Linked DNA regions of Homo sapiens: all the other regions are reported to be linked to region 1. Evidence: microRNA targets listed by miRTarBase, many of them from high-throughput screens and not tested one by one. Region 1 holds a microRNA gene; each other region holds the end of a gene's coding sequence.
What was found. Region 1 holds the annotated microRNA hsa-let-7g-5p (UGAGGUAGUAGUUUGUACAGUU, at 3,674-3,695, shown strand). A microRNA usually pairs through its seed, bases 2 to 8, with sites in the 3' UTR of a target mRNA and lowers its output. Matches are read on the target gene's strand: a 7mer-m8 pairs with bases 2 to 8, a 7mer-A1 pairs with bases 2 to 7 and ends in A, and an 8mer does both.

Region 2: the mRNA of HAND1 is a reported target of hsa-let-7g-5p. Seed matches in the 3' UTR shown: 8mer at 4,933-4,940.
Region 3: the mRNA of CASTOR2 is a reported target of hsa-let-7g-5p. Seed matches in the 3' UTR shown: 7mer-m8 at 4,818-4,824.
Region 4: the mRNA of PLD3 is a reported target of hsa-let-7g-5p. Seed matches in the 3' UTR shown: 7mer-m8 at 1,897-1,903.

What each region holds. Positions count from the first base shown.
Region 1 is chr3:52,264,653-52,272,030 of GRCh38, reverse strand. It overlaps MIRLET7G (microRNA let-7g), which reads left to right and starts at 3,670; the gene lies at 3,670-3,753. WDR82 (WD repeat domain 82) reads left to right here. Exons shown (of 9, transcript NM_025222.4): 2 at 1,222-1,319; 3 at 5,013-5,079.
Region 2 is chr5:154,470,123-154,477,500 of GRCh38, forward strand. HAND1 (heart and neural crest derivatives expressed 1) reads right to left here. Exons shown (of 2, transcript NM_004821.3): 1 at 7,344-7,378; 2 at 4,850-5,788. The coding sequence ends at 5,684. Among named protein-coding and RNA genes, the nearest start is that of HAND1, 4.4 kb to the right of the region's middle. RefSeq lists enhancers at 2,311-3,282, 3,283-4,254, 5,925-6,779 and a silencer at 5,583-5,770.
Region 3 is chr7:75,022,384-75,029,761 of GRCh38, reverse strand. CASTOR2 (cytosolic arginine sensor for mTORC1 subunit 2) reads right to left here. Exons shown (of 9, transcript NM_001145064.3): 8 at 5,228-5,322; 9 at 1-5,128. The coding sequence ends at 5,063. It also overlaps a transcript of RCC1L not described here. Among named protein-coding and RNA genes, the nearest start is that of RCC1L, 48 kb to the left of the region's middle.
Region 4 is chr19:40,376,417-40,383,794 of GRCh38, forward strand. It overlaps PLD3 (phospholipase D family member 3), which reads left to right. Exons shown (of 13, transcript NM_012268.4): 11 at 193-358; 12 at 1,370-1,469; 13 at 1,570-2,069. The coding sequence ends at 1,757. HIPK4 (homeodomain interacting protein kinase 4) reads right to left here. Exons shown (of 4, transcript NM_144685.5): 2 at 7,367-7,378; 3 at 3,907-4,752; 4 at 2,855-3,353. The coding sequence ends at 3,171. Among named protein-coding and RNA genes, the nearest start is that of HIPK4, 10 kb to the right of the region's middle.

The DNA.
Region 1 (7,378 bases):
GCAACCTCTGCCTCCTGGGTTCAAGGAATTCTCCTGCCTCAGCCTCTTGAGTAGCTGGAATTACAAGTGTGTGCCACCACACCCGGCTAATTTTTGTATTTTTAGTAGAGACGGGGTTTCACCATGTTGGGCTGCTCTCGAACTTCTGACTACAGGTGATTTGCCTGGCTCGGCCTCCCAAAGTGCTGTGATGACTGATGTGAGCCACCACCTTGTGGCCAGAAATGTGTGATTTTGCTTTAAAGTAAAAGCAAAGGAACTATTTAACTGGTTTTGCTAGAGAAAGTTAGGCTTGCCTTCTAAAAGGCTCAGCAAGCGCTTTTGACCTGTAGGATAGGAAGGATGGATGTCTTCTGCAAGAGCAGGTTACATTAGCAAAGGCAAGCAGTTTTGCATCTGGTTTCAGTTTTGAGGAATCACTGCCGTCTTGAAAAAAAAAAACACAGAGCTTCTTTCTAAATGGATGTCTTGAGAAGAAAAGTTTGGCCTCTTGGGTTTGACATATTCTCATATCCCTCTTTGTTGTAAGTTAAGACTTGTTTTGTGTGCCTTTCTTCCCAAGTAGATGTACAGCCATGCATCACTTAGATGGGGATCATCACGTGAGTTTTTGTTGCAGCAGCATCATAGAGTGTACTTACACAAACCTGACGGTATAATCTGCACACACCTAGGCTGTTTGGTATGGCCCATTGCTCCTAGGCTACAAACCTGTACAGCATTTTACAGTACTGAATACTGTAGGCAATTATAATATAGCGTTAAGTGTTTGTGTATCTAAACATAGAAAAGGTGCCGTAAAACAGTTTAAGGGATTTAAAAAATGAAACATCGGTTGTAGAGGGCAGCTCTATTATAATCTTATGAGACCATTACCCTATGTGCTGTCTGTTGTTGATAAAAATGTCATCACATGGCACATGATTGTATTTTTTCTCAAAGCTTTTGAACATTGTAGTAAAGACTGAATTGAATCCCCAGATTTACTTTTACTTCCCACCTAACCTTGCCACTAGGTGTTCTAAGGTGGAAAGCTTCTTCAGATGGCTGTTGCTTGAGCGTTGTTTTTTCCCTTTTGGAAGAAGTTGTTTCTTTCCAGTGTTAGAACTTACCAAAAATCCTCACCTTTGCCACATCATTCAAGTGCTTCTCTTTATGTGGAGATCCCAGATTTTGATGATGGAGAATGTTCATGATTTTCTGTCTCTATTTTCTTATCAGACCAAAGAGAACCCTGTACAGTAAGAAATATGGTGTGGACCTCATCAGATACACTCATGCAGCAAACACAGTTGTTTACAGCTCTAACAAAATAGACGGTAAGCAAGCCTTTTTAGGAAGTTAAGGTCATGGTTTCCTTTGTTAAATAGTTCATGGAATCTTTGTGACTACTTCTGCTTTGTGACTACTTTAGTTTAAGTATTTTCATATAATGTTAGTAATGTTAATTGCATTGTTTTGACTGAAGGAATGCTGGAAGCAAGCCATTGGCACTTTTGAAGGACTTGGGACTGAGTATGAAAAGTCTTCAATTCAGAGTGGGGAGTGGAAAAAGGAAACAACTAATTGTGTTTATGATTTGTACTTCCTGACACTTAAAAGAACGCTTTTAAAGCCGGGCGTAGGGGCTCGCGCCTATAATCCCAACCTTTGGGAGGCTGAGGTGGGCGGATCACTGAGGTCAGGAGTTCAAGACCAGCCTGGCCGATATGGTGAAACCTTGTCTCTACTAAAAATACAGAAGTTAGCTGGGCACAGTGGTGCACGCCTATAATCCCAGCTACACAGGAGGCTGAGGCAGGAGAATCTCTTGAACCCGGGAGGCAGAGGTTGTGGTGAGCCAAGATCACGCCATTGCACTCCAGCCTGGGCGACAGAGTGAGACTCCATCTCCAAAAAGAACACTTTTAGAACAAATAAAAGGAAAGAACACTTGATACACAGCAAGTGATAAACAACAGGACTTTTTCTTTTAAAATGATAGAGATTTGAGAAAAGTTTCACAAATGCTTGAACTATGATAGTTTAAGGGAAGTTAGAACAGTTTTGGTGTTTTCCCAACCTTAGTCACTTCTGATTCCAGGAACGTTTTTTGATCTAAAGAGTAGAGTTACTTTTAGAAATTGAACTTGTGAGTTTCTTTCTATAATAAACAATCTCTGTTTTTGCCTGCATGTCTCGAGATAAATCCTAAGTTAACAGATTGTCTTGGTAACTGAACTGTAACACTTATTTTCATGTTAGAATTCTTTAATTTTTTAATTTTGTTTATTTTCTTTTGTTTGTCTGTTTTTATTTTTTGAGACAGAGTCTCACTCTGTTGCCTAGGCTGGAGTGCAGTGGCGCGATCTCAGCTCGCTGCAACCTCCGCCTCCCGGGTTCAAGTAATTCTCCTGCCTCAGCCTCCCAGGTAGCTGGGACTACAGGTGCATGCCACCATGCCTGGCTAATTTTTTGTATTTTTAGTAGAGACAGGGTTTCACCATGTTAGCCAGGATGGGTCTTGATCTCCTGACCTTGTAAGCCACCGTGCCCGGCCTATTCTTTATTCTTTTGAGACAGAGTCCTGCTCTTGTTGCCCAGGCTGGAGTGCAATGGTGCAATCTCGGCTCACTGCAATCTCAGCCTCCTGGGTTCAAGCGATGCTCTTGCCTCAGCCTCCCAAGTAGCTGGTATTACAGGTGCCCACCAACACGCCCGGCTAATTTTTGTATTTTTAGTAGAGTTGGGACTTCACCATGTTAGTCAGGCTGGTCTCGAACTCCTGACCTCAAGTGATCTGCCTGCCTCATCCTCCCAAAGTGCTGGGATTACAGGTGTGAACCACCACGCCCGGCCAGGATTCTGTTTTTAAACTTATTTCAGTGGATTATTGATGATCATCTCACATTTTGCAGTAAGGTTTTTTTTAGGCCGGTGGCTACATAGTGGCTCATGCCTGTAATCCCAGCACTTAGGGAGGCCTAGGAGAGTGGATCACTTGAGCACAGAAGTTCGAGATTAGCCTGGGCAACTTGGGAAAACCCCGTCTCTACAAAAAATACAAAAATTAGCCAGGTGTGATGGGACGCGCCTGTAGTCCCAGCCACTTGTAAGGCTGAGGTGGGAGGATTGCTTGAGCCCTGGAGGTCTAGGGTGATCACACCACTGCACTCCAACCTGGGTGACAGAGCGAGGCTCCATCTCAAAAAAACAAAAAAGATTTTTCTAATGTCATTCCACAAGGATAGCTTATACTGCTATTTTGGCTGTGCCTATCTCAGAGCAGAATGGGCGGAAGTCCTTTTTTCCATTTTTTTTTTTTTTTAATGAGACTCTTCTGCCTGTATTGATTTTTAGTTAAGTATGTCATTTCTACTTTTCATGCCTGTATTTCAGAAGTGGTTTTCTAAGGAAGCAGTGTAGTTAATGATTTTGGAAAAGAATGTAAAACCTTAGGATCCTGAGGAAACATGTCTATGTGATCATCCGAATGACTGGTTTATTTCTTCTGTTGGGATGTTTTTCTGAGTGATTAAATGAGGATTCTCCAAATGTGGTGCAAGATGAGGCAAATGTGTGGCACTTGTAGCTTTGCTGCCAAGCCTCTGCTGTGAGGATGTTCCCTTTCCTGTCTCAAGTGCATCCTGAAGAGTTCCTCCAGCGCTCCGTTTCCTTTTGCCTGATTCCAGGCTGAGGTAGTAGTTTGTACAGTTTGAGGGTCTATGATACCACCCGGTACAGGAGATAACTGTACAGGCCACTGCCTTGCCAGGAACAGCGCGCCAGCTGCCAAGTGGGGCTGAGAGGATGGCGTCACCCTGCTCATCTCTGGGAAACCAGGTAATGGGGAGGAAGTCTTTTTCTTCTTAGGGCAGGTGAGTCATTGTTAGCAGTAGAATAACTAGAAATACTTCGTAGTTGTCATTCAAGAAGTTTGAAGATGTTTTCAAGGAAAATTGTGTAGTGTTCAAGTTATGGAATATACAAATATCCCTATTCCCCTATTCCCCCTCCCAAGTTAAATGCCCTCTTATTAGAAAGCACCCCTGTGAACCCCTGGGATGACTCGATGCTTTCAACCCCTTTATTCCTATGTTCTGTTTGCCTTCAGAATGTTCTTTCTATGGTTTTCTTTCTGCATTTTGGTACCATTTTCCCTTAGCTGTTTCTCAACAATTTTTCCTTATTCCTAGTCTTTTTAAGGGGATAATACTTTTCTATTTTGCAGTTTTATTCTTTATGGCACTTCATTTCTCTACCGCCACCATGTTTTTTGTTTGTTTACTCTTTCAGATAGAATCATTTGGTTAAGAGTGTCTTATTTTTCCACAAGCACAAATCTCTGATTGTTCCTTTCTTTAATATTGTCAAAATCTCACTGCTATTACTCATTGGTATAAGAATTTGATTTTTTTAATGTCTTAAGATCTTTTTAACCCAGATCTTGACATCACTTCTCTGACGTTTTGTTTATTTTCATTGTAATTTGTGTGTCCAATTGAAGAATGTTCAAATGAGTTGAGGGTGGGTCAACATACTGATGGAGAACTCTAGACAAAAATTGCTGCCAGGGTTCAACCTGATCTTCAGTTTAACTGCCATGGCTGCTCACCTCTTTAAGTCTGTTAGCTCAACAGCCACATATTTTTCTTTAAGGTTTGCCATTCTGTGGACACTAGACCAGTATCTAAAATTATTATGTGTGCTTTACTTGTTTTTGTTTTTTGACCAGGGTATATTTGCAGGGTGGGAGTTGCATTGTAATTATGAAGAAACCAAATTGGTAATAAAAGGTCATTTCAAACATTGCTTTCTATGCTGTCAACTTAAGAACTCTGCTTTTGAGTTAGGTGAAATCTACATACCCACTCTTCAGCTGCAGAGTAGAATTATTCACCATTATTTATTCATGCCTTGCTTGGGATATAGAATACAATGGATTATTTGACCTTGTCTTTTTAAGATGAAAATGTAAAGTAAATTTCTTTTAAATAGTATGATATCATCATACCTTGTTTGTCTTTTTACAGATACTATTCGTTACTTGTCCTTGCATGACAACAAATACATCAGATACTTTCCTGGACATAGCAAAAGGTAAGACCCACGTATTATAGAAGCAGATAGTTCTTTTATCCCTGAGGTTACCCAGAGAATAGAAGGCTAGAGAGAGCTTATTAGTGAACTGAAGCTACTTCCTCACTACTGCTTGGCATTCTTCATCTTCTCTTAAATAGTCAACTCTTGATTTACTGAGGTTATAGAGGTGCAGAGGTAGGTGTTCAGAGATACCTCAGTTAAAATATAACTAGGCCCAGTGCAGTGGCTCACACCTGTAATCCCAGCACTTTGGGAGGCCGCGGCGGGCGGATCACTTGAGGCCGGGAGTTTGAAACCAGCCAGGCCAACGTGTCAAAACCCCATCTCTACTAAAAATACAAAAATTAGCCAGGTATGGTGGTGGACACCTGCAATCCCAGCTACTCGGGAGGCTGAGGCAGGAGAATCGCTTGAACCCAGGAGGCAGAGGTTGCAATGAGCCGAGATCGCGCCACTGCACTCCAGCTTGGGCGACAGAGTGAGACTCCGTCTCAAAGATATATATGTATATATATTTTTTCTAGTTATAGGTATATCTATTTCTAGTTAGATATATATATTTCTAGTTTTATATATACATATAAAACTAGAAAAAATGTGGATTAAAGATATTCAGTGAAAACTTATGTAGTAAAAATTAGATTTGGCATTTAGGAATACCAAATCTCACATATCCCTTAATAAAGGACTGTTTGTGTTTATGAGGCCTTCCAATATATGTGGCCCCCATTTCAGTGGGCCCCTATGTAAAAATGTTCCATTTAAAGATCTTAATGAGAATGCAAAAGAAAGTCCTTTTTTTAAAATCAAGAAGTTTATCTCCTTTTTCTGTATTGTAATGCAGGTTGCTTCTCTCTGTTCTTCACCCCAATGCCCCTAGTTACTTTTTTCTCTAATTTTTCAACTTTTCTTTGAATGTTAAACACGTTTTCCCCTGGATAATATTTTAATCACTTGGGGTATTTTTTCCTGCATCCATTTGCAAATGTACAGTAACCCAGGATGGTTTCGATTGGTATGGAGCCCTGACAGGAGATGGCCTGAGAGCCTCCTGTTAGAAATTGCACTTCCAGGCCAGGCGTGGTGGCTTAATGCCTGTAATCCCAGCTCTTTGGAAGGCTGAGGAGGACAGATTGCTTGAGTGCAGGAGTTCAAAACCAGGCTAGGCAACATGGTGAAACCCTGTCTCTACAAAAAATACAAAAATTAGCCAGGAGTGGTGGTGTGCGCCTGTAATTCCTACTACTTCGGAGGCTCAGGCACGAGAATTGCTTGAACCCGCGAGACAGAGGCTGCATTGAGCCAAGGTGGCGCCACTGCACTCCATCCAGCCTGGGTGACAGAGCAAGACCCTGTCTCAAAAAAAAAAAAAAAAAAAAAAAGTTGCACTTCCAGTTGGGCAGGCCATTTGTGTTGCTGAAATAAAGGTGAAATAAGGTGGCAACCAGTGGTAACTGGTTTCAGACAAAGGATGGCTCATGATAAGTAGATGTTTTGCTTGTTTTTATTCAAATTAATGTTCACAAATGTACTATTTGTAATTAAGAGTTGATGCAGTTGTTTGACGTGCTTTCCAGTCTTCCCAATTATTCAACCTCTTGACCTCCTGATTCTTTTTTTTTTTTTTTTTTTTTTTTTTTTTTTTTTTTGAGACAGAGTCTCGCTCTGTCGCCCAGGCTGGAGTGCAGTGGTGCAATGTTGGCTCACTGCAGGCTCCGCCTCTTGGGTTCACGCCATTCTCCTGCCTCAGCCTCCTGAGTAGCTGGGACCACAGGCACCCGCCACCAAGCCCCGCTAGTTTTTTGTATTTTTAGTAGAGATGGGGTTTTACCGTGTTACCCAGGATGGTCCCTGATCCGCCCGCCTCAGCCTCCCAAAGTGCTGGGATTACAGACGTGAGCCACCGCACCCGGCTGGCCGACCTCCTGATTCTTGATAGATGACTTTGTCCCTCCTTTTATGAGAAAATCAAGGCTATACAAAATGAGTTATTTCAGCTGGGTGTGGTGGTTAAGGCCTGTTATCAGCACTTTGGGAGGCTGAGGTGAGAGGATCGCTTGAGTCTGGGAGGTTGAGGCTGCAGTGAGCCATGATTGTGCCACTGTACTCCAGCCTGGGTGACAAAGCAAGACCGTGTCTCCAAAAAAAAGAGTTCTTTTAAACATCTATCCCTTCCACCTAAATTCTGTCTTCCTTGGAATCCTTTCCTTGAGAAAGCTGTTGTCTTTCTTTCACAAAACAGACCTTCCTCTTTCTGCTTGCTTCCATCTCCTTAATTGGCCTTTCCTTTGTTGCC
Region 2 (7,378 bases), not on the chromosome of region 1:
AGGGCTTTGAAGCAGGAATTTGCTCACTGGGTGTGTGTCCTTGAGAAAGTCACTGAAATCTTCTGCATCTGTTGGAAGTATGCCCTGAGTCTCCAAAGCCAGCAAACAAACCAAAAGAAACCCTCAATGCTTCACAAGACTGTTATGAGGATTAAATAAAATAATAAAAATAGCTCTACCATGGGCAACGCGCTAAGTGCTTTGCATGCCTTATCTCTTTCCATCCTCACAGACCCAAGGATGTTGGGGGAATGATTGCTCTCATTTTGTAGATAAGAAAACTGAGGTTGAGAAATGTTCAGTAACTTGTGAAGAAAACTGAGATTGGGAAATGTTCAGTAACTTGTGCAGGGACTCCTGGCCCTTGTATTGTTCTGTTCCCTGCACTAAAAGTAGAAGGTATTAAATAAACAAAGGGAAGAGAAGGGCACAACTTCCCTGAGATGCTGGGCAAGTCCCTCTCCTTTGTGAGCCTCAGTTTCTCCTTCTGTAAATGAGGGACATGCTTGGATGGTGGGTAAAGACCTTTGAGGTCTCAGTGTTATGGGGTGTGTTCACATTTCAGTGAACATAAGCCTTTCAGGACTCCTCTAAAGTCCGATGCTTTCCATTGTCTATTTTGTGGGGATAAATGTGCATTTCTGTTTGTTTTAATAACATTTGTAGGAGCTTTATATAGTGTCTACGTCTGCTTACATTAGATGCTGTGTATTATAGTTAAGAGTCTTTCACGATTTCCCATATAAACCTAGTTTTTTATGAGTTTGGGAGAGCTCAGCTGTAAAAACTCTCTCAGCTGAAAAAATTTTGTTTCTAACAAATCAGGTTTAAATCAGGAGGCTGGTTTCAGACACTTCAGAACGTGCATATTTTTTCTCTTCAGTCACTCTTCATTTAAAAATGAGATTGGCTGATTTCTTAGTTTCGTTTCTTTTGTGAAGATTTAGCAAGACTATAAGGTTAACCAATGGTTGCATAGACAGAAGGTATCCAGTGCCTTTTCCGTAAGAACCCTGGGTTTGAGGCGCACCTTCTAATCCGGGCTCAGCCTTTGACTGGCTGTGTGACCCTGAACTGGTCACATCAACTCTCTTGGGTTTGCCTTTCCCACATCTGTCCATGGGGAGCATCATTCCTGCCTTGGCTGTCTTCCAGATTATGGGGAGGAAAATGCACTTATAAAAGTGGAAGTACCCGGGTAAGGTAAATGTGCCAGGCAAACACCAGAGACTACTGCAAAGAATAACGTGCTGAATTCCTCACCAGGAGAAAGTAGATTCCTGGAATCAGAATGTTACTAACAGGAAACCACCTTGGAGCCTACCCTTTTCCTCATTTTCTAGATGGGATCCACTCAGAGCCCTGACAGGGGAAGAGGGTTCCAGGAGAATGCTGGAATTTGAATCCCAGATCCTTTCACGTAACTCCTTCCTTCTTTTTTTCTCTACCTTACTTTGGGGACTAAGGAAGATCAGACTGAGAGAAACTGTATTTGGGCACATATGTATGTATACACACACACACACACACACACACACACACCTGGAGGTGCTCCGAGATGTGGGGGAAACAGGTCTCTGGAGGTAGCCATGTTTGCACTTTGATACAAGTCCTATCTGCCATCCATGTGACCTTGGACAAAATCCTTCACCTCTCTACGCCTCAGCTCCCTCAATATTGACCTCACGGAACCCTGTGAGGCTTATATGAAATAATGCATGCTGAGTTTAAATACTTTTCTTTATAAATGTTAGCTGTTACTATTCCATTCATCAATAGACTTTAAATGTAAGAAAAAAAGACTATTTGCTGTGTACGAGGAATAATAAACTCTTCAGGACAAATATTTTCTGTTGTATGTTAATTGATCGTTATTAGGATCTTTTCATTATATTTATGCCCACAGTGCCTAGCACATGGTGGGCACACAATAAATGTATGTTAAATAAATGGTGTATTGAAAGTATGCTGGCAACAGAGGAAATTGCAGCTTAATTTTTATTGCAAAAGTAATACTTATTCATTATAAGACATTTAAGAAAAATATGGCTAAGCAAGAGGAAAAGTCAAAATTACCCTTATTCCCACAAGTCAGAGGTAAAGGTGTGAAAGTTTTGATGTATATTCTTCCAATTTTTCTCCACGAATAATATTTTTTTATTTTTACATGAAAAGGGTCACAATGGACAGTGTTTGGTGTAATATGGGAGGAGGTTTTCTCACTTAATATATCGTGAACAATTTCCATGTCAATTCCCACATTTTTTCTAATGGCTGAATAGTAACCCACTTGTACTGATGGCTTTATTGAGCCAGTTCTGTAATTATAGGACATCAGGTTCTTTCTCGTGTTTCACTCTTTAATAGAATAGTCCTATAGTTAACGTTTTGTAACATCAATATTTCCTTGCAGTAAACTCCTGGAATTTACTTTTAAGTTGGTAACCATTCCATTTTTCCCATTTTTTAAAAAAGATGTATTTAATTCAAAAATAATAAATAATGACCCTGCTTCTGCCACAGCTGATTTGAGGTGTCTGACAAACCTCGTTGAAACCTGGGCAGAGAAGAAGAAACTAAACGTTAGACTCTAAAGATGTTTTCAAAGAAGGGAGGGCTAAGGAGGGGTGGGAGCCTGGAGAGCCAGGGTGGCAGCGAGAAGGGCTGGACCCCTAGTCTGCAGACCCTCAGCACAGAATGGTTTGTGAAACCTGGGGCAGCTCCGAGCCGTTCTCTGTGCTCGGCTTTTCCAGCTGTGCGGTGGGAGCTGGGGATGTGGCGTGGGCGTGGGAGGCCGCTGGAGTCAGGCGTGGGGAGAGTGGGGGACTATCCAGTGACCCTCTCAATGGGCGCCGGCTCCGTCTCGGCTCCCGGGTTCAGGGACTGCACGTTTCTGAGACCGAGTTTAGGGCTCCAAGGCTCTCTTCCCAAAGAGGGTTTGGGGCCAGCAGGATTGGGTTTTCTGAAGAGGCCTGGTTATGCCAGACTTGGCTTTGGCGGCCGCTGGCGGGTCTCCCTCAGCACCCCCTCTTCTTTCCCCGGCTATAAGAAAGCTAGACCAGGGTGCGCATTCTTCCCGTGCCTAGGATACTTCACGGTGCTAAAAATAGTCCTGGGAGCTGGGACCTGTGTATAGCCAGAGGTTTGTGTGTGAGCGAAGTTGGAGTCCTGGGTTCGAATCTAGATAAGCTTCCCTCCGTGCTGTGGGGCTTAGATCACCTCCCTCCCTGAGTCTGTTTCTCCATGCGCGCCGGAATTTCTAAACGGACTCCCAGAAAGAAACGGAAAGAAAGAAGGTAAAGAAAAGAAAAACAAAACAACAAGAAAGAAACTTTGATTTTTCTCTCTGCTCCTCCCCAAGGGCCCTGGGGCCTCGGGCCGGGTACTGAGGCCGAGGAAGGGGTGCGTCGGACAGGCTCATTACCGCCAAGTGTTGCCCTAGTTAAATCGCGGGCCTGTTTGATCTGGCGGCGGGTGGCGAGAGGGAAAAAAGAAAAAAGTAGGGGGGCGAGAGTAGAGAGAGAAGCTCACACCTCCCCCACTGTTTCCTAGCGCCCATAAAACACCTTTTATTAACTCCTTCGCGTCCGGAAAGGCCCGCGTGGCCTCTCGGCCCCTGCTACGGTGTTTACAGCCAAGACTAATGGGGTCCCATATTCACCCCGACGCTGGGACAAGGCGCCTGGGGCACGCCTGGTGCCCCACGAGGCCCTGCCCCGGAGCTGCCTGAGGTCTCCTTTCTTGTTCCCAAGCCGAGCGCTCAGGCTCCAGGTGCGCAGAGCGAAAGTTCCAAGACAGCCTCACGGGTCTCCCCTCCTCCTTCGCAGTGAGCGCCGCAGACCCTCAGGCGCTGCAGAGCGTGCGCTCCGTGGGGCAACCATGGGAGCTGTTGGGAGACACAGAAGTGCTTAGCGCAGTGCCTAGCACACAGTTGCACGCAACCAAAGTATTCGTACATTATTATTCCTGGAAGTATAAACCACTGCGTTTGCCCGCCCCAGTTTAGCCCAATACGCATCCAAGATCCTTGGCAAATGCACCGAATTTATACCCACCACACCTAGTCATGGGTGCGCATGAGAGAACACAAAGACTGGCTCTCCTGCACAAGTGCCCGAATGAGCACGCATACACACATACACCCCATCCCTTTGCACAAATCCATATGCTCTCACAACCTTCTGTCGAGTGCTTCGTTGCTAAAGAGAAACCTAAATACCTCAATTTAACATATAAGCACTCACAAGCTTATTTTACTCAGGTATAAAATAATAATAGCTGCTGTGACTTGTCAAGTCCTTACTGTGTGCTTGGAGCTGTACTAAGCAGACCCTTGTTGGCCCCTGCACAGCCTCAGGCTCCGTATGAGTTGCTGCACTGTCACATGTACATCTATATGTTGAGAATTTCACATACATGAACATATTCCCCACCAACACCCCCTCTCCTGAGCTACCCTGCCCCAGGGATAGGATTCACCTGTGTGCTAGGCCCCCTTCCCTCCCAATAAACACTCCAAACCACTCTTTGCAGACACCAGTGGGCATACTAACCTCCAGACAAGCACGAATACTCAACGCACAAAAACCCGAGCCCAGGCCCTCTGAGACTAATTCGTTTCCGTTTTTGTTCTTCCCCGTTCCCATAAGTTACCCCCACCTCCCGTTCTAGTCTAAAGAGAACTTTGCTCTTGTTCTTGAAATACATTCTTTATCTGCCGGCTTCCCTTGATTTCAAGTTTGGTTTCGTGTTTATCAAAAGAAGAGGAGCAGGAACAGAGGCTTTCCACCTAGCAGAAGCCATGGGAGTCGGTGAGGGACCCCGGTTGAGACATGACACAGGCTTCAGATGATTTCAGAAAATGTTTTATTAATCAAGAGCATAGACACTGCTTTGGCGAAGGGAGGGGGGCTGTGAGTGGTCACACAGACTTGAGGTAGAAAAGGGTTGGGGATGGCAGGATGAACAAACACCTGAGCACAACAGGCATGGTAGGTAGTTTAAATACATAAAAACTTTCCAACACAGGGAAAGCTTTTATTTAGATAGAAACAAAAAGGAAGGAAAAGAAGGAAGAAAAGAGAGAGACAGAGAAAGAGAGAAAGTGTTTCCCTTGGAACTAAACAGGAAGTGCAGCGACAAAAAGAAAAATAAAATAAAACCACCACGATTCGAAGAACAAAGGGCAGCCTTTCATCTTCCTGCGTCTGGTTCTCTTTCTCAGGCAGAAAAGAATTGATTCCTTATTGCATTTTAATTAGAGAAGACGGCGTCGGGGCGGATCATATGGAGGGACAAGAGAGAAAGAGCCAGATAGGGAAATGGAGATAGGGCTGAGGTTCTAAATTCGCTCCAAAAGGGTGGAAGAGTGCGTCTTTGAGCCCTTGGGTTCGACAGTCCCTCCTTCTTGCATGTTGCCGCCAAGGGCCGCCCTCGGTTGGGCTGGGGGTGGATATATATATATTTCTCTTTCTCTTAATGTATTAAAAAAAATCAAAGGACATTGCACGTGCGATCCAAGTGTGTGGTTGCAGCCGACGACCTGCCGGCGCTCAGCAGAAGCTCCGCGGGATGCGTAGCACCAGTCGCCGGAGCCCAGAGCCTGGCGTTCGCCGCTGCCTTCCTCTCCTCCCGGGGCTTCAGGAGTGGCTGGCCTGGCCAGGTCCTCGGCGCGGGCCTCGGCTCACTGGTTTAACTCCAGCGCCCAGACTTGCTGCGGCCAGCCGGTGCGTCCTTTAATCCTCTTCTCGACTGGGCCCAGGGCAGGAGGAAAACCTTCGTGCTGCTGCTGCCAAAGGACACACAGAAGAAAAGAGGCGGGAGAGACAGGTTTTAATTTTTCTGCTCCGATCGCCCGGCATGGGGTAAGATGAGGAGGAGGGGAAGGTGTCGGGAGCAGTAACTGGGAGTCTTTAAATAAGTGACGGATTTCTGTTTGCGAAATAGGCAAACAGGCTCGTAAATTTGCCTTTATGCGCGGAGTTCCTGGGACCCGGGATGGGCTGGGCAGCTTCGGGAGGTTTGGTAAGGAAAATGTTCTGCGTCTGGTGAAACTGACGCGCGTTGATTTGGCTTTAGGACACCTAAGGGAGATCCCAGGATATTGGAAGGGAGGGGTGGAAATCCACGGTTCTCCCGCTCTCGCTGCACCCCACACACTTCCGCCAGCCTCCCAACCTGGTTTAAACATCAGGGCTTGGATGCAGGCTTGGGGCCCCCTAAGCCGGAGCTGGGAGCCTCAGATACGGAGGTAAAAGAGCGGGGAGTCGAGCTGGCCTAGCGTCCTCCTTCCCGCTCTTTCAGCAGGAACCAAGCGGTGCTACTTGAAGGAGGCGGCGACGCGTGGGGGCCGGGATCCGCCCAATAACAACTTCTTTCGAGGCGCCGCACCTCGAAAGAAGCCGGCCTGCACCATCCCCAGTCCGGGGCAGCCGTTTAGAGACTCGATGCCTATTTATCTTTCCCTCGTCCCTGGATGAGCTTTCGTCAGTTTACCACAGGCCCCCGCAGGTTGGATAAACCAGGTGGGGCGCTTCAGCTGGCTCCACTCCGCTACGGCCTTAAGCCCCCCAACCTAGAGAAACTGATTGGCCAGCCTGAAAACCCAGCGCTCAGAAGCCCCCAGCCCCGGACAGCCAGACCGAGTGCCAGGAAGTGTCACCCTAACCGGAGAGGATCAAGAAGGCCAAGACGAGACTGCGCTCTCCAAAGCTAAAAGAAGTGGCTCTTATTTACATGCAAAGCCACTGAAGTCGTCCTCAGAACCAGTCCATGGGGAGAACCAGAACTGGCCCTGGACTGAGTAGAAGACCCGATCTGTTTTACCTCACCTCCACCCTGGACTCCTCAGATAGGTGCTTTTCCTGCCCCGACCCACTCTGGGCCCTCAGTTTCCCTATTTATACAATGATGGAAGTAGACTAGCCGGTCCAGCAAAGGCCCTTTGAAAACAGGAACCGAGCCCGGGCACATAAATTCAAACTCAAAGTAAAGAACTTTAACACATATTCTTAACCTGGCTTCCAGGAGAGCCCAGGAATGAATCAGGACTTCTCCAAATTGGAAGCAAAACCTGTGGTGTGTGCATTTTTGGAGGGTCCGAGGCTCCAAACAGATTATTCACTCAGTATTACAAACACTCTCCCGTATTACAAATGAATTCTATGACGAATCTGCCTCCCTCCATGCACAGGATCGCACGCTGTGACCAACCATCTCAGAACTCTTCCCAACCTTTCCAAATCGGACACAGGACAACACAGCCTCCTTCGACTACCTGCATGGCCTGAGGCTGCTCACCGCTCCTGCACCCTTGGCTGGAGCATGCAAGCCCCAGGACTCACCAGCTCCCTTTTCCGCTTGCTCTCACGGCCGCCAT
Region 3 (7,378 bases), not on the chromosome of region 1:
ACTAACCAATGTCTCCAATGCTCCAGGCCCTGCTCGGAGCGGACTAGAAGGTTGGGGGTGCTTCTTCCCATCCCCATGCAAAGCGCTTCACTCAGGAAGTGGCGTCAAAAATCCCATTGGCCAGGCGGGGTATCTCATGCCTGTAATCCCAGCACTTTGGGAGGCCAAGGTGGGCGGATCACCTGAGGTCAGGAGTTCAAGAACAGCCTGGCCAACATAGTGAAACCCTGTCTCTACTAAAAATACAAAAATTAGCCGAGCGTGGTGGTGGGTGCCTGTAATCCCAGCTACTTGGGAGGCTGAGGCAGGAGAATCACTTGAACCTGGGAAGCAGAGGTTGCAGCGAACCGAGATCGCACCACTGCACTCCAGCCTGTCTCAAAAAAAAAAAAAAAAAAAGATCCCCCCATTGCAGGGCTGAGGTGCTCTTGCCCTAAAGCCCCCTCTCTTAGCTGGGGCTGGGAAAAGCCCTGGTTGTCACCACATCCAGATCTCTAGGCTCAGAAAGGGGCCCAGGGTGGCCTTAGGACTCCCCAGGGTATCCCTGGAAAATGTGGCCAGGAGGAGGGGGCCAGTGGGAGGTGGCCTGTGTTCACCTTTGAAGATCACCAAATAGTGCCCTGGGCTTTAACAGGGGCCTGGCCCTTCCTGTCTTCCCAGTCTTCTCTCCTGACCTCCAGGGCATCCTCTGTCACCTCAGAGGGGCAAGCCCCTCCAGACCAAGCCTCCTCCTGCTGAACAAATGTCACCCTGGCTACGCTGCTGCTTCCGGAGGCCACACTGGAAGCCTCTGATCCCCCAGCTCCTTCCTTTCCCACCAGCAGCCTGGTGCCTGGAGGTGAGAGGAGGTGAGAATGCCAGTGGTTTGGAGTGAGGCTTTGGGTCCCCGCCTCTGAATCTTGGGGAGGGGAAGCTACCAGGGTCAGGCCTGCAAGCCTCTCCAGCTCAGATGCATGCCTCGGGCTGAGGACAGTGGTGTGGGCAGTGCCCCTTGAAGGAGGGCGGTCCTGGAGATGCCCATGGAGGAAGGAGGTGCAGAGTCAGCAATGCCCAGATCTTTGCTGGGTTAGGACGACGGGCTGAGGGAGGAAGGGGTGTCTTGGGAACCAGGGGAGCCCCACGACGAGGCAGAACTTATCAGTGGCAGGGAGGGGTGGTCACTGCTCTGTTCCTCCCCATCCTTCAGCTCCCACTGGTACTCTGAGTGCAGCAAGGGGAGAGGGTGGGGTTGAGACTATCTGAGCTTTTCTTAATGGAGAACCACACAGGGGCCAAGACACACACTCCAGGAGCTCAAGTGGCAGCCCCAGGGTCACCTGCTCACCCCTAGAAATTCCATGAGGCCGGGCACGGTGGCTCATGCCTGTAATCCCAGCACTTCGGGAGGCCAAGGTGGGTGGATCACTTGAGGTCAGGAGTTCAAGACCAGCGTGGCCAACATGGTGAAACCCCGTCTCTACCAAAAATACAAAAATTAGCCGCGTGTGGTGGTGAGTGCCTGTAATCTCACCTACTTGGGAGGCCAATGTAGGAGACTCGCTTGAACCCAGGAAGTGGAGGTTGCTGCAGTGAGCTGAGATCATGCCACAGCACTCCAGCCTGGGCGACAGAGCAAGACTCCGTCTCAAAAAAAAAAAAAAAAAAATTCCACATCATAGAGAGCCCTCTTCCTCCCCCGCCAGGCACCTGCCCCATCCGCCAGCGCCAAGACAACAGGCCCACTCCTCTGATTACCTCCGGGGGATGGACGGCAAACAGGTAAGGAGTTCCATGCAACTGCGGATGGAGCCCCTCTGAGAAACACATGCCCCTCCAAGTGGGGTCTGGGGCCTGGAGAGACCCTCCCACCCAGCAGACCAGGAGATAGCTGGGGGACAAGGGCAGACGGCCCCTGCCTGGGAAAAACCACACTCACACCCCACCCCGAAGAGCTGTGGAGACCAAACCAAGACTACGCTACACACAGAACGCCGAGAAGATAAACCAAGCTTTACACGAGCAGGATGGGGATGGGAAAACTAAAGGGGCCCCCTGTGACCGAGGAGCAGGGTCCCCAGGGGGCAGCTCCCACGGAGCGGGCTTGAACAGGGACCACCCCTGCAGAGCCAGCCAGGGCGGAGAGCCATACCCTGGCCCCAGCGCGCCCCGACACACATGCTTTTCTCCATGACACGAGGCCAGTCCCCAGGAGCAGCCCCAGGAGCACAACCTGAGATTTCTAAGCTTGCAGGTTACAAAAAACAAAAAAAACAGAGAAGCTGCCTGCGTAAAAAGTGCCACCCACGGAGGCAGGACACAGGCAGCGTGTGGCCCATTCAGCAGGCCCAGGTCTTCAGGGTGAGGCTGCTGGCGAGGGCAGGGGAGAGGGGGCATTCTGGTTAAAAGCAAGAAATTCCAAATACTCCTCCCTCGGGATCAACATCCCCCCAAATAAGGGCGCCCAGGGATCTTGCCTGGGGAAAGTGGGGTGCAGAAGGCATGACCCACGCCACAGCGGGCTCTCAGCACCCTTCCCACGTCCCATGTCACAGGCTCTTTGAGCTGCTGGCTTTGTTCTCTCAAGTCAGGTCTGAGGGAACCCATCGGCTTCTGTAATAATCGTATTGCCTATATACTTGAATTAAAAATATATGGTGGCTCAAATGTGCCCGCGTGTATGGCAGACGGTGCGGGGTGGAGGCCATCACGCCCATACACGTGTGCACACACAGCGGGGGGCTGTGTCCACGGACTGCGCACACAGTATATATTAACATATATATTGCTCAAGTATATATGCTATTTACAGTATATATCTCTATCAACATAAAACACAGGTATTTATAGGTGTGTACAATAGATACGTCCTAGGAAGTCTAGGGGACACACGACTCTGGGGTCACGGGGCCGACACACTTGCACGGCGGGAAGGAAAGGCAGAGAAGTGACACCGTCAGGGGGAAATGACAGAAAGGAAAATCAAGGCCTTGCAAGGTCAGAAAGGGGACTCAGGGCTTCCACCACAGCCCTGCCCCACTTGGCCACCTCCCTTTTGGGACCAGCAATGTACGAGTTTTGTTCTGGAGTTTTGTGCAAAACAAATTAACTTAAAAAAAAAAAAGTTGGTTTCTAATTAATGTGGTGGGCCTTCAACACCCACAAGGATTTTAAAGAACAGCTTCTCCTTCTGGTGGGCTTCCAGGGCTCAGAGGGTCCCACTCAGAGAAGCAGGGAACACTTTGTCAGGACTAGAAAATATCCCTTCTCCTCTGACCACAGAAACAGCACAACTCGGCTGGGTGTGGTGGCTCACGCCTGTAATCCCGGCATTTTGGGAGGCCGAGGCAGGCGGATCACTTAACTCAGGAGTTCAAGACCAGCCTGAGCAATGTTACGAAATCCCGTCTCTATTAAAAAATACAATAACTAGCCAGACGTGGTGGTGCGTGCCTGTAATCCCAGCTACTTGGGAGGCCGAGGCAGGAGAATCACTTGAACCTGGGAGGAGGAGGGTGTAGTGAGCCAAGATCGTGCCACTGCATTCCAGCCTAGGCAACAGAGCCAGACTCCCATCTCAAAAAAAAAAAAAAAAACCCCCGCCAGAGCCAAAACCACAGGGGCCCTTGGTCCTGCTCATTCAGAAAACCACCCCACTGGAAGGGACACCACGGCTAACCCCATGCCTCCTGGACATGACCACTCAGCTGGCCTGCCACCTGGCTGTCCACCTCCCCATGGCCCTCGGGTTCCCTCACCCCCTCCGGTGCTCAGATAGAACTACAGCTGGTTGGTGGGAGTTCCCATGTGGGGTGCCAGCGGCTCCAGCGTCTTGTAACAGATCTCTGCTCCTAGCTTCCCTTCAGAAGAGAGGGCCCAGGCTCCTGTGACATCTCCCGATTCCCACTGCCTGTCCCTGGAGCCACAGAGCACCAGCTTAGTGACACAGAGCCTCCAGGCTCCCTTGACAGAACTCAAACAGGTCCTATCCCTGCCAAACAGAAACTACCGCCAAGAGCACCCTGGGTGCAAATACATTAAATAAAAAACTAAAACAAAGTATGGTTTTCTCTATTAAGGCTCAGTTAAGCTGCCTCCTGGGTCAAGTACTCATGAATGCCACAGCCCCCAGCCAAGGGGCGGGTGGGCAGGCAGGTGACTTGGGGGCAGAGGAGGGAGGAGGACGGCGGGGAGTCCTATGCTGGTCTAGTTGTCTGTTGGGGAGGTGGGACACCACCTAAGAAACCTCAGGCCTGGAAAGCCAGGGATGTCCCTACTGGGGGAAGCTGAGGCTCTACCTGCCCAAGTCGGGTCCAGGGAGAGCCGAGGGGACAGGAGCTGGTGCTCCAGGCTGGTGGGTCTCCTGGGACCCTCCCTCCTCCCCCAAGGACTGAGTGCTTGTGGGGGAGGGTCTGGACAGGGCCCTCTTGGCAGTCTTGCTGGGAGTCGGGCCCAGGCCCTGTGGTTGGCAGGCGAGGTACAGGGGGAGTCTGGGTCCTTCCCAGCTCGGGGATCCCACCTGGGTTCCTGTCTGAGCCTCACCAGCCCCGATGACCTGAGGGGGCCACGCTGGCCTCCACTCCGAGGGAACCAGCCCTGAGCTGATGGAAGCAGAGACCAGTGACCACAGTACTCACCCCCAAACCCTCCAGGGCACCCCAAACTCGGCCCCACCCCGCCAGCCCCAGCCCTGCAAGGTGACATGACAGCTGGCACACCGGTGTCTCGCAGGAGGGACCGGCTTCCCTCGGCATCTGCCCCTGGCCGTGGGTGAGGCCGGATGAGAAGGCGGATCAGCTCACAAGCTCCCTGGGCCTCCGAAAGCATTTTCCGGGGTGGGGGAGGTAGGGAAGAGAAAGGTCGTTCTCTGGAGGGTCGGGGGGCTCCGGGAAGGCAGGAGGGCATGGAGAGGCCTTGGCGTGGGCCCCTGCCCTGGAGGGATTGGCAATCGAGGGAGTCTCCCACAGAGGCCCCTTCCTCAGGGTCCCCAGGCTGATTTTCCAGTCTGTAGAGAAATACTGCAAGATCAATCTTCAGGGTTAGGGCTGGGCCCGGGCGGCGGCAGGGAGGAGCAGAAGAGACCCTTCTAGTGCTTCTCTGCTTGGCTGACCTTCAGGGCACTGATGACACCATTGATGTTCTCTTCGGGGACCTGTGCAGGGGTAGAGGAGGCAGATGCCTGCCCGTGAGCCCAGGAACCTGCTTCCCCACCCCGGCCCTGCCCTGGAGGGGTCTGGCGCTGGACACTCACAAGTGCATGATCAAACTTGAAAGTACTGATGTAGTAGGCTGGGATGTCTGCAGCAGCCAAGGGCTCTGAGATCTGGGCCACGATGCCACACTCATCTAGAACAGGAGAGACCGTCCTTAGCCTCTGTGTAACCTGGCTACCCTTGCCTGTGTGGCTCTTCAGCCTCTACCCTCTGTGGGCAATGCCTACCCTGCACCCACCATCCTCCTAGAGAATTCCCATCTGCTATCCCTTTTATTTTTTTTGAGATGGAGTCTCGCTCCATCGCCCAGGCTGGAGTGCACTGGCGTGAGCTCACTTCACTACAACCTCCACCTCCTGAGTTCAAGCAATCCTCGTGCCTCAGCCTCCCAAATAGCTGGGATTATAGGCGTGTACCACCATGCCCAGCTAATTTTTTTGTATTTTTAGTAGAGATGGGGTTTCACCATGTTGGCCAGGCTGGTATCGAACTGCTGTACTCAAATGATCCACCCACCTCCACATCCCAAAGTGCTGGAATTACAGGCGTGAGCCACCGTGCCTGGCCTCCCACTGGCCATCCCTCTTGAAGGCTTAACCCAGATGTCCCCCAACCAGGAGCCTTCTCTGGTCGCTGGCCAGTGAAATAGTTTGGCTTTGTGTTCCTGCCCAAATCCTCCAATTGTAATCTCAAGTATTGGAGGTGGGGCCTGGTGCAAGATGACTGGATTATGAGGGTGGATTCCTCATGAATGGTTTAGCCTCATCCTCTTGGTACTGTTCTCGTGACAGTAAGTCCTCACGAGATCTGGCTATTTAAAAGTGTGGCACCTTGGCTGGGAGTGGTGGCTCACGCCTGTAATCCCAGCACTTTGGGAGGCCGAGGCGGGTGGATCACTTGAGGTCAGGAGTTCGAGACCAGCCTGGCCAACATGGTGAAACCCCATCTCTACTAAAACTACAAGAATTAGCCGGGCGTGGTGGCACGTGCCTATAGTCCCAGCTACTTGGGAGGCTGAACCCAGGAGGCGAAGACTGCGCCATTGCACTTCAGCCTGGGCAACAGAGCAAGATCCGGTCTCAAAAAAAAAAAAAACAAAAAACAAAAAGAAAAAAAAAATGCTATCCACCAAAGACGTTGTCTGGACAACTGTGGAAACAGAGGAAAGACTAAGTCTTAGGGAATGACTGAAAATTTTCTCCTGTGGAATCCTGTCATTGTGGTTATATAGGAGAAAGTGTTTCTTCTTTTTTTTTTCTTTTTTTGAGGTGGACTCTCGCTCTGTCGCCCAGGCTGGAGTGCAGTGGCGCCATCTCGGCTTGCTGCAAGCTCCGCCTCCCAGGTTCATGCCATTCTCCTGCCTCAGCCTCCCAAGTAGCTGGGACTACAGGCGCCTGCCACCACGACCGGCTAATTTTTTGTATTTTTAGTAGAGACAGGGTTTTGCTGTGTTAGCCAGGATGATCTCGATCTCCTGACCTTGTGATCCTCCTGCCTCGGCCTCCCAAAGTGCTGGGATTACAGGCGTAAGCCACCTTGCCCGGTGCTTCTTCCCAGGATGGAAAAGGCGAGGCATTTAGGAGTAAAGTGTTGGGTGTCAGACTCTCTGGGAGATATGTGACAATTACATGTATTTACGTGAAGAAAACATGTTAAAAAATTGCCAGCAGTTATTATCTTTGAGCTGTGGAAATAAGGAGTGATTTTTTTTCTCTTTAATTTTTATCACAGCCCCAATTTATTCTTTTTTAAATTAAATTTATTATTATTTTTTGAGACAGAGTCTTGCTCTGTTGCCCAGGCAGGAGTGCAATGGAGCGATCTTGGCTCATCGCAACCTCTGCTTCCTGGGTTCAAGCGATTCTCCCATCTCAGCCTCCTGAGTAGCTGGGATTACAGGCGCACGCCACTGTGCCTGGCCAATTTTTTGTATTGTTAGTAGACATGGGGTTTCGTCATATTGGCCAGGCTGGTACTCCTGACCTCAGGTGATCCACCTGCATCGGCCTCCCAAAGACCTGGGATTACAGGCACGAGCTAACTCGCCCAGCCTCTTTTTTTATTTTTAGAGGCAAAGATTTGCTCTGTCACCCAGGTTGGAGTACAATGGCATGATCATGGCTCACTGTAGCCTTGAACTCTTAGGCTCAAGTAATCCTCCTGCCTCAGCCTCCTGAGTAGCTGGGATT
Region 4 (7,378 bases), not on the chromosome of region 1:
AGCCACAGCCAGGAAGAGGAAATAGGGATGTGGGATTTATGGAGACAGGAACAGGGTCTGGGAGCCAGCGATGAGGAAGTCCTCTCAATAGCTAAAGCAGGGCCCAGGCTTGGTTCCCCAAAGCTGAGGGCAAAGCCTGTGGACACAGCCGCCCTCTGCATCCTGCCCCACCTCCTATACACCCGTCCTCAGGTTCTGGCCTGCCATTGACGATGGGCTGCGGCGGGCCACCTACGAGCGTGGCGTCAAGGTGCGCCTGCTCATCAGCTGCTGGGGACACTCGGAGCCATCCATGCGGGCCTTCCTGCTCTCTCTGGCTGCCCTGCGTGACAACCATACCCACTCTGACATCCAGGTGGTAAGTACTGCCCCAAGCCACCCCTTGGCCCCTGTGTGGGGCAGTCCTAGGGACACAGCCCTCATGGGACTCGTCTGTCAATGACAAGGGCAGCCCAGAGTGAGCCCTGTCACTGTGGGGAAACCATGGGTCAGGGCCAGGGTCATGGGGCACAGGGAGAGGGGCCAGGACCGGGATGAGGGGGCACAGGCAGAGGGGTTGGGACCGGGATGGGGGTGCAGAGAGAGGTGTTGGGACCAGGAATGGGGACATGGGCAGGTAGAGGGGTCAGGGCTGGGATTGGGAGCACAGGCAGAGGGGTCAGGGCTGGGATGGGGAGGCACAGGCAGAAGGGTCGGGGCCGGGTTGGAGGGCACAGAGAGAGGGGTTAGGGCCAGGGTTGGGGGCACAGGCAGAGGGGTCGGGGCCAGGATGGAGGAGGCCCAGGCAGAGGGGTGAGGGCTGGGGTGGGGGGCACAGAGAGAGGGTTTGGGACCAGGACTGGGGGAGTGGGCAGGTAGAGGGGTCGGGGCTGGGGTTGGGGGCACAGGCAGAGGGGTCAGGGCTGGGATGGAGGAGGTACAGGCAGAGGGGTCAGGGCTGGGATGGGGGGGCACAGGCAGAGGGGTCAGGGCTGGGATGGAGGAGGCCCAGGCAGAGGGGTCAGGGCCAGGGTCGGGGGGCACAGGCAGAGGGGTCAGGGCTGGGGTGGGGATGCCCAGAGGAAGCCTCTGCCCTAGCGGGAAGGGCCAAGGAAGATGTTCTGGAAATGGGGGCATCTGAGATGAGACCTCAGGAATGAACAGGAGCCATTCTGCCGGGAACAGTGTTTTGCAAATGAGACCACCGGGGCCTCCCTTTCAGCTTTCGTTCTCAGAGGGCCCCTCCACCTGGCCCTGTTCTGGCCCCCGAGGATTCTGTGGGAAGCAGTGGAGTCCCACAGATCTCGCTCCACACTCTGCTCCCTGATCCCGGGGCTCCTCCGACTCCCCCTGCCTCTCACACTCCTTCCCATCCTCCCCTCCCACTCAGAAACTCTTTGTGGTCCCCGCGGATGAGGCCCAGGCTCGAATCCCATATGCCCGTGTCAACCACAACAAGTACATGGTGACTGAACGCGCCACCTACATCGGTGAGTGTCTTGAGCACCACGGGGCGCTGAAGAAGAGGGGGTTCAGACACCAGGGGCGGCCCCCCGAGGGTGCCCTTATGCTCCACCCATTCCTCTCTAGGAACCTCCAACTGGTCTGGCAACTACTTCACGGAGACGGCGGGCACCTCGCTGCTGGTGACGCAGAATGGGAGGGGCGGCCTGCGGAGCCAGCTGGAGGCCATTTTCCTGAGGGACTGGGACTCCCCTTACAGCCATGACCTTGACACCTCAGCTGACAGCGTGGGCAACGCCTGCCGCCTGCTCTGAGGCCCGATCCAGTGGGCAGGCCAAGGCCTGCTGGGCCCCCGCGGACCCAGGTGCTCTGGGTCACGGTCCCTGTCCCCGCGCCCCCGCTTCTGTCTGCCCCATTGTGGCTCCTCAGGCTCTCTCCCCTGCTCTCCCACCTCTACCTCCACCCCCACCGGCCTGACGCTGTGGCCCCGGGACCCAGCAGAGCTGGGGGAGGGATCAGCCCCCAAAGAAATGGGGGTGCATGCTGGGCCTGGCCCCCTGGCCCACCCCCACTTTCCAGGGCAAAAAGGGCCCAGGGTTATAATAAGTAAATAACTTGTCTGTACAGCCTGTGCCTGACTGAGTGGTGTGAGATGGGGTGCAGGGGTAGGGGACAGCTGGCATGGGCCTCTGGTGGGGACATCTTTTTGTGCTGAGCCCTCAACATGTCACTGGCATGTGCTGAGCCCTCAGTGTGTGACCAGTGTGGGTTAGCATGTACTGAGCCCTCAGCATGTGCTGGCATGGGTTGGCATGTGCTGAGCCCTTAACATGTAGTGTACATGGGCTGACCTGTGCTGAGCATGCAGCGTGCCACCCTGTGGCCCGGCATGGACTTAGCACTCATGTAGCCAGCATGGGTATGTGCTGCAGAGAAGCATGTTCCCAGATTGATCAGCAGGGACCAAACCATTGCCACATCCCAAGGGTGAACAAGCATGGCTGAGCACCAGAGTGTGCACCAAGTGTGAATTTAGGCCTGCCAAGTGGATTTACACCCAGCACGTCCCAAATGTGGGTGAGTGCATGCCAACCCTGTAAACATGTAGGAAGGACAGGTCAACAGACAAGGAGACCCCAGCATCCGGCAAACTTGATTAACACATACTGAACACAGCATGTTCTGAGGGTGGATTCCCAACACGCCAAGCACATAGCGTATTTAGGACAAGGGTTAGTCAACCAAGCACAGCTTTTCCCTCCTAGTGTGACAGCAGCCCAGGCTCCCGCCTAAGCCAGTGGTCAACTGGGCCCAGCATCGCAGAGCAAGTCACTGGGTGCCAGCCTGGAGCCCCCATTCCCCCCAGGGCCAGTCCAAGCCCCAGGCAGTGAGAGCAGGCTTGAAGCAGGACTGCTGAACAGTTCTATATTGAAATAGACAGAGGCAGCAGGGCCAAGGGCGAGCGCAGGGCCAGCGGGGTGCAGCCCCCTTTCCTGCTGTCCTTCTGGCCAAGGAGCATGGGCCAGACTCCAAAGCCCTGCTGTGTTTAGGAGAGGTGTGCAGGCACGCACCGCACCGCAGACGGGGAATGAGAATTTCTGGATAACTATCTTTCTGTAAGAATAATTTGTGGGTTCAGGAGATGGCTCTGAGGAGCAGTTCAGGTTGGGAGGGAATGCCAGCCCAGCTAGCGCAGCCCCCAGTGATGGGCAGGGGTGGAATCACCATCAGTGGTGCCCGGTGACATGCTGGAGGAAGCTGGTGGCCCCCCGGGGTGGACCATGCTGGTGGGAGCGGCGGGGTGGGAGCCCCTGAGCCCGTGGGCCCCTGACGCTCTCCAGGGTGCAGTCTGGCTCACTCAGCCATTCTCCAGGACAGCTGCTGGGGTCGAAGAGCTCAGGGTCTGGCCTCTGTGGGGGAAGAGAGAGGGGCATCAGCCAAGCAGTGTTAGTGTATTAGTGTCTGCTGAGCCTCTGTCACCTCCTCCTGATGAGGGTGAGCATGTGCTAGGGTCTTACCAGTGCTGGGCCTTTATTGCCCCTTTGTAGTGATGTGATGACAGCTCACTGCAGCCTCGACCTCCCTGGCTCAAGTGATCCTCCCACCTCAGCCTCCTGAGTAGCTGGGACTACAGGTGCATGCCACCAAAACCAGCTAATATTTCTAATTTTTTGGTGCAGACGGGATCTCACTATGTTGCCCAGGCTCTTTATCAAGCTTCTTATAAGTAGATTACTGTGCCCTGAGTTTTTGTCACAGCCTGGAAGTAGCTGAGTAAGTGCTGAGCCTTATCATATCTTGACGGTATTAGGTGTGTGCTGAGCCTCCTAAGTCCCTAATTGTATCCTGAACATGGGTGAGTGTGTGTTGAGCCTCCTCACACACTAATCATATCCTGAGCACGGGTGAGTGTGTGCTGAGCCTCCTCCCACCCTAATCGTATCCTGAACGCACCCGGCTCACCTCAGCTTCCATGGTCATGTTGTCAATGTTGGGCCCATCCTCATCTCGCTGCAGGATGGCCAGTGGCTCAGCAGAGGCCCCGAGATGCTCTCCTTCCTCCCAGCTGCTGCCCCGGCAGGGCCTGTCATCCTCAGGCGAGACCTGGCTCAGCCGAATGAGGTTGCTGAAGTTGGAGTCGGACTTGGAACCCGCAGGTGGCTTGCGGGCCTTGTGGCGGCCTGCCAGGCGGCTGCTGTAGAAGGCCAGGATGGGCTCAGGGCCCGAGTCGGGCACATGGTGGCCAGTGATGGCTGCCTTGAGGGGGACCATCATGTCGGAGACCGCATTGGTGCAGGTCTCACCCCACAGCCCATGCCCAGCCTCCTGCAGACTCAGGTCATCCAGCTGGTCGATGGCTCTTTGCATACCTGGTGCCTTCTCCTCTCGGAAGAAGGGGCTGCTGCCGGCCACACTGCCCATACCCGCAGCCTCCTTCTCCTCAGCCAGACAGTAGTAGGGGGTCCCATCTTCTGCGGCCACGACGGGCGTGGGGGGCTTCCCCTCCACTTGCAGCGAGAGGCGGTAGCTGCGCAGCGAGAGCTGGTAGTAGTGGGTGGTCTCGTGGGCACTGCGCAGCTGCTGCATGGACACGAAGGGGTGGCGCAGGGCAGCACTGGGGCTGATGCGTTCGTGTGACTCCCAGGTCAGCATGCGCTTGATCAGCTCCACCATGCTCTTGAGGTCGGCGTGCTCCGCCAGCGCCTCCCGGTCAGGGAAGGTTAGCCGACTGGCCACACTGCCACCATTCACTGTCTCAATCTGGTCCAACGACTTGAGCATATACTTGCGGCGCTCCAATGGGCGCACCTGGCGGGGCATGGAGAAGGGGGCAGGGTTGACCATTGTGCAGGGCTAGGGCCCTGGGCACTCCTGCTGTGGCACCCACATGTAGCCCCGACTTCCAGGTCTGCCCATGATCTGCCTTGGAGCTCTCTGGCTGCTAGGAGGGCCACCCTGGATCCGTCACACCCAAGCCCCTCTAATCGAACCCAAATCACTGGCCCAAGTTCCACCCCTTGCCCCAGACCTCCAGTCCCCTTCAGCACCATGGGTGCAGCCCCTACCAGCAGCTAGCAGAAGGGCTGCCCGGAATCTCTAGTCCTCCCTGGAATCAAATCCAGGTCCCTCTTACTGCCACAGCTCCACACTTGATCCCAGGCCTCCTGGTGGTCAAACCCAGACCCTTCTTGCTATAGTAGTTTGTCACCCCCTGCTATTAAACTGCCATTGACTTTTAGTCTCACCTGTGGTCCCATCCAGACCCTTCTTGCTGTGAAATCAAGACCTATGACCTCAAACTCCTAGTCCCCTCTGCTGTCTAACCCAGGCTCTTGCTGCACAGATGGGAGGGGCAAAGCCACAGAGGTAGCAGACTGGCTGCTGCCCCAAACCTCTAGACTCACCTGAGGTCTCACTCAGATCCTTTTTTTTTTTTTTTTTTTTTTTTTTTTGTATGTGTGTGAGACAGAGTTTCACTCTTGTTGCCCAGGCTGGAGTGCAGTGGTACAATCTCGGCTCACTGCAACCTCCACCTCCCAGGTTCAAGCGATTCTCCTGCCTCAGCCTCCTGAGCAGCTGGAATTACAGGTGTCCACCACCATGCCCAGCTAATTTTTGTATTTTTAGTAGAGATGGGGTTTCACCATGTTGGCCAGGCTGTTCTCGAACTCCTGACCTCAGGTGATCCACCCACCTCGGCCTCCCAAAGTGCTGGGATTACAGGTGTGAGCCACTGTGCCTGGCCTTAGATCCTTTTTTTTAAACAGGGTCTTGCTGTGTCGCCCAGACTGGGGTGTAGTGGTGCAATCATAGCTCACTGCAACTGCCAACTCCTGGGTTCAAGTGATCTTCCCACCTCAGCCTCCCAAGTAGCTTGGAACTACCGGTGTGTGCCACCATGCCTGGCTAAATTTTAAAAAAAATTTTTTCTAGAGACACGGTCTTGCTATGTCGCCCACAATGACTTCAAGTGATCCTCCTGCCTTGGCCCCCACCAAAGTGCGTGGACTACAGGCATAAGCCACTGCACCTGGCCTCTCTCGCAATTCTCATAGCCAATCTCAGACCTCATATATTCTCTGTGGTCTAATCCCTCTTGCCACACAAGTTGCTGACCCCGGAGCTGAAGCTGGCAGAGAAGCTGCCCCAATCGTCCTGTCACACTTATAGTATGACCCAGATCTCTCTTGCTAGAGCAGCCCCCACATCTGACTTCCAAACATCTAATTCTCCCTGCAGTTTCTCCCCCAGATCTATCTTGCTGCAGTTGCTGACCAGTCCCACATTTGATCTCATGCAGCTCTTTCTTGCTGTGAAAATGCCCTAGGCTGACCCCCAAGTTCCAGTCCTCATTGAGGTTTAGCCCAGAAATTTTTTTTTTCAATTATTAAAAAAATATTTTTTTGGCCGAGCGCGGTGGCTCATGCCTGTAATCTCACTGCTTTGGGAGGTCGAGGTGGGTGGATCACGAGGTCGGGTGTCTGAGACCAGCCTGGCCAACATGGTAAAACCCCGTCTCTAGTAAAAATACAAAAAAATTGCCGGGTGTGATGGTGGGTGCCTGTAAGCCCAGCTACTCAGGAGGCTGAGGCAGGAGAATCTCTTGAACCTGGGAGGCAGAGGTTGCAGTGAGCTGAGACCGCACCACTGCACTCCAGCCTGAGCAACAGATCAAGACTCCGTCTTAAAAAAAAAAGAAAAAAATATTTTTCTTTTCTTTCTTTTTTTTTTTTTTTTTTTGAGACGGAGTCTCACTCTGTTGCCCAGGCTGGAGTGCAGTGGTGGGATCTCGGCTCACTGCAACCTCCGCCCTCTGGGTTCAAGCGATTCTCCTGCCTCAGCCCGCCGAGTAGCTGGAATTACAGGCGTCTGCCACTGCGCCCAGCTAATTTTTTGTGTTTTTAGTAGAGACTGGGTTTCATCATCTTGGCCAGGCTGGTCTTGAACTCCTGACCTCGTGATCCACCCACCTCGGACTCCCAAAGTGCTGGGATTACAGGCGTAAGCCACCACACCCAGCCTCTGTTTTTTGTTCTTTTCACTCCATTCTTCTGGTCTGATAGATTTTTCTTTTTGAAACAGAGTCTTGCTCTGTCACCCAGGCTCAAGTGTAGTGGCATGATCATAGTTCACTGTAGCCTGGACCTCCCAGGCTCAAGGAATTCTCCTGCCTCAGCCTCCCATGTATCTGGGACAATAGGCCCATACCACCGTGCCCAGCTGATTTTTTTTTCCATGTTTTATAAAGAGGAGGTCTCACTATGTTCCCCAGGCTGGTCTCAAACCCCTAGGCTCAAGGGATCCTCCCACCACAGCCTCCCAAAGTGCTGGAATTACAGGTGTGAGCCACGTTGCCCACCCTAGAATTTTTTTTCATGTAACAGCCCCCACACTGACTGCCCTCACCCAACTTTTCCCTTACCTTCGTCTCGGC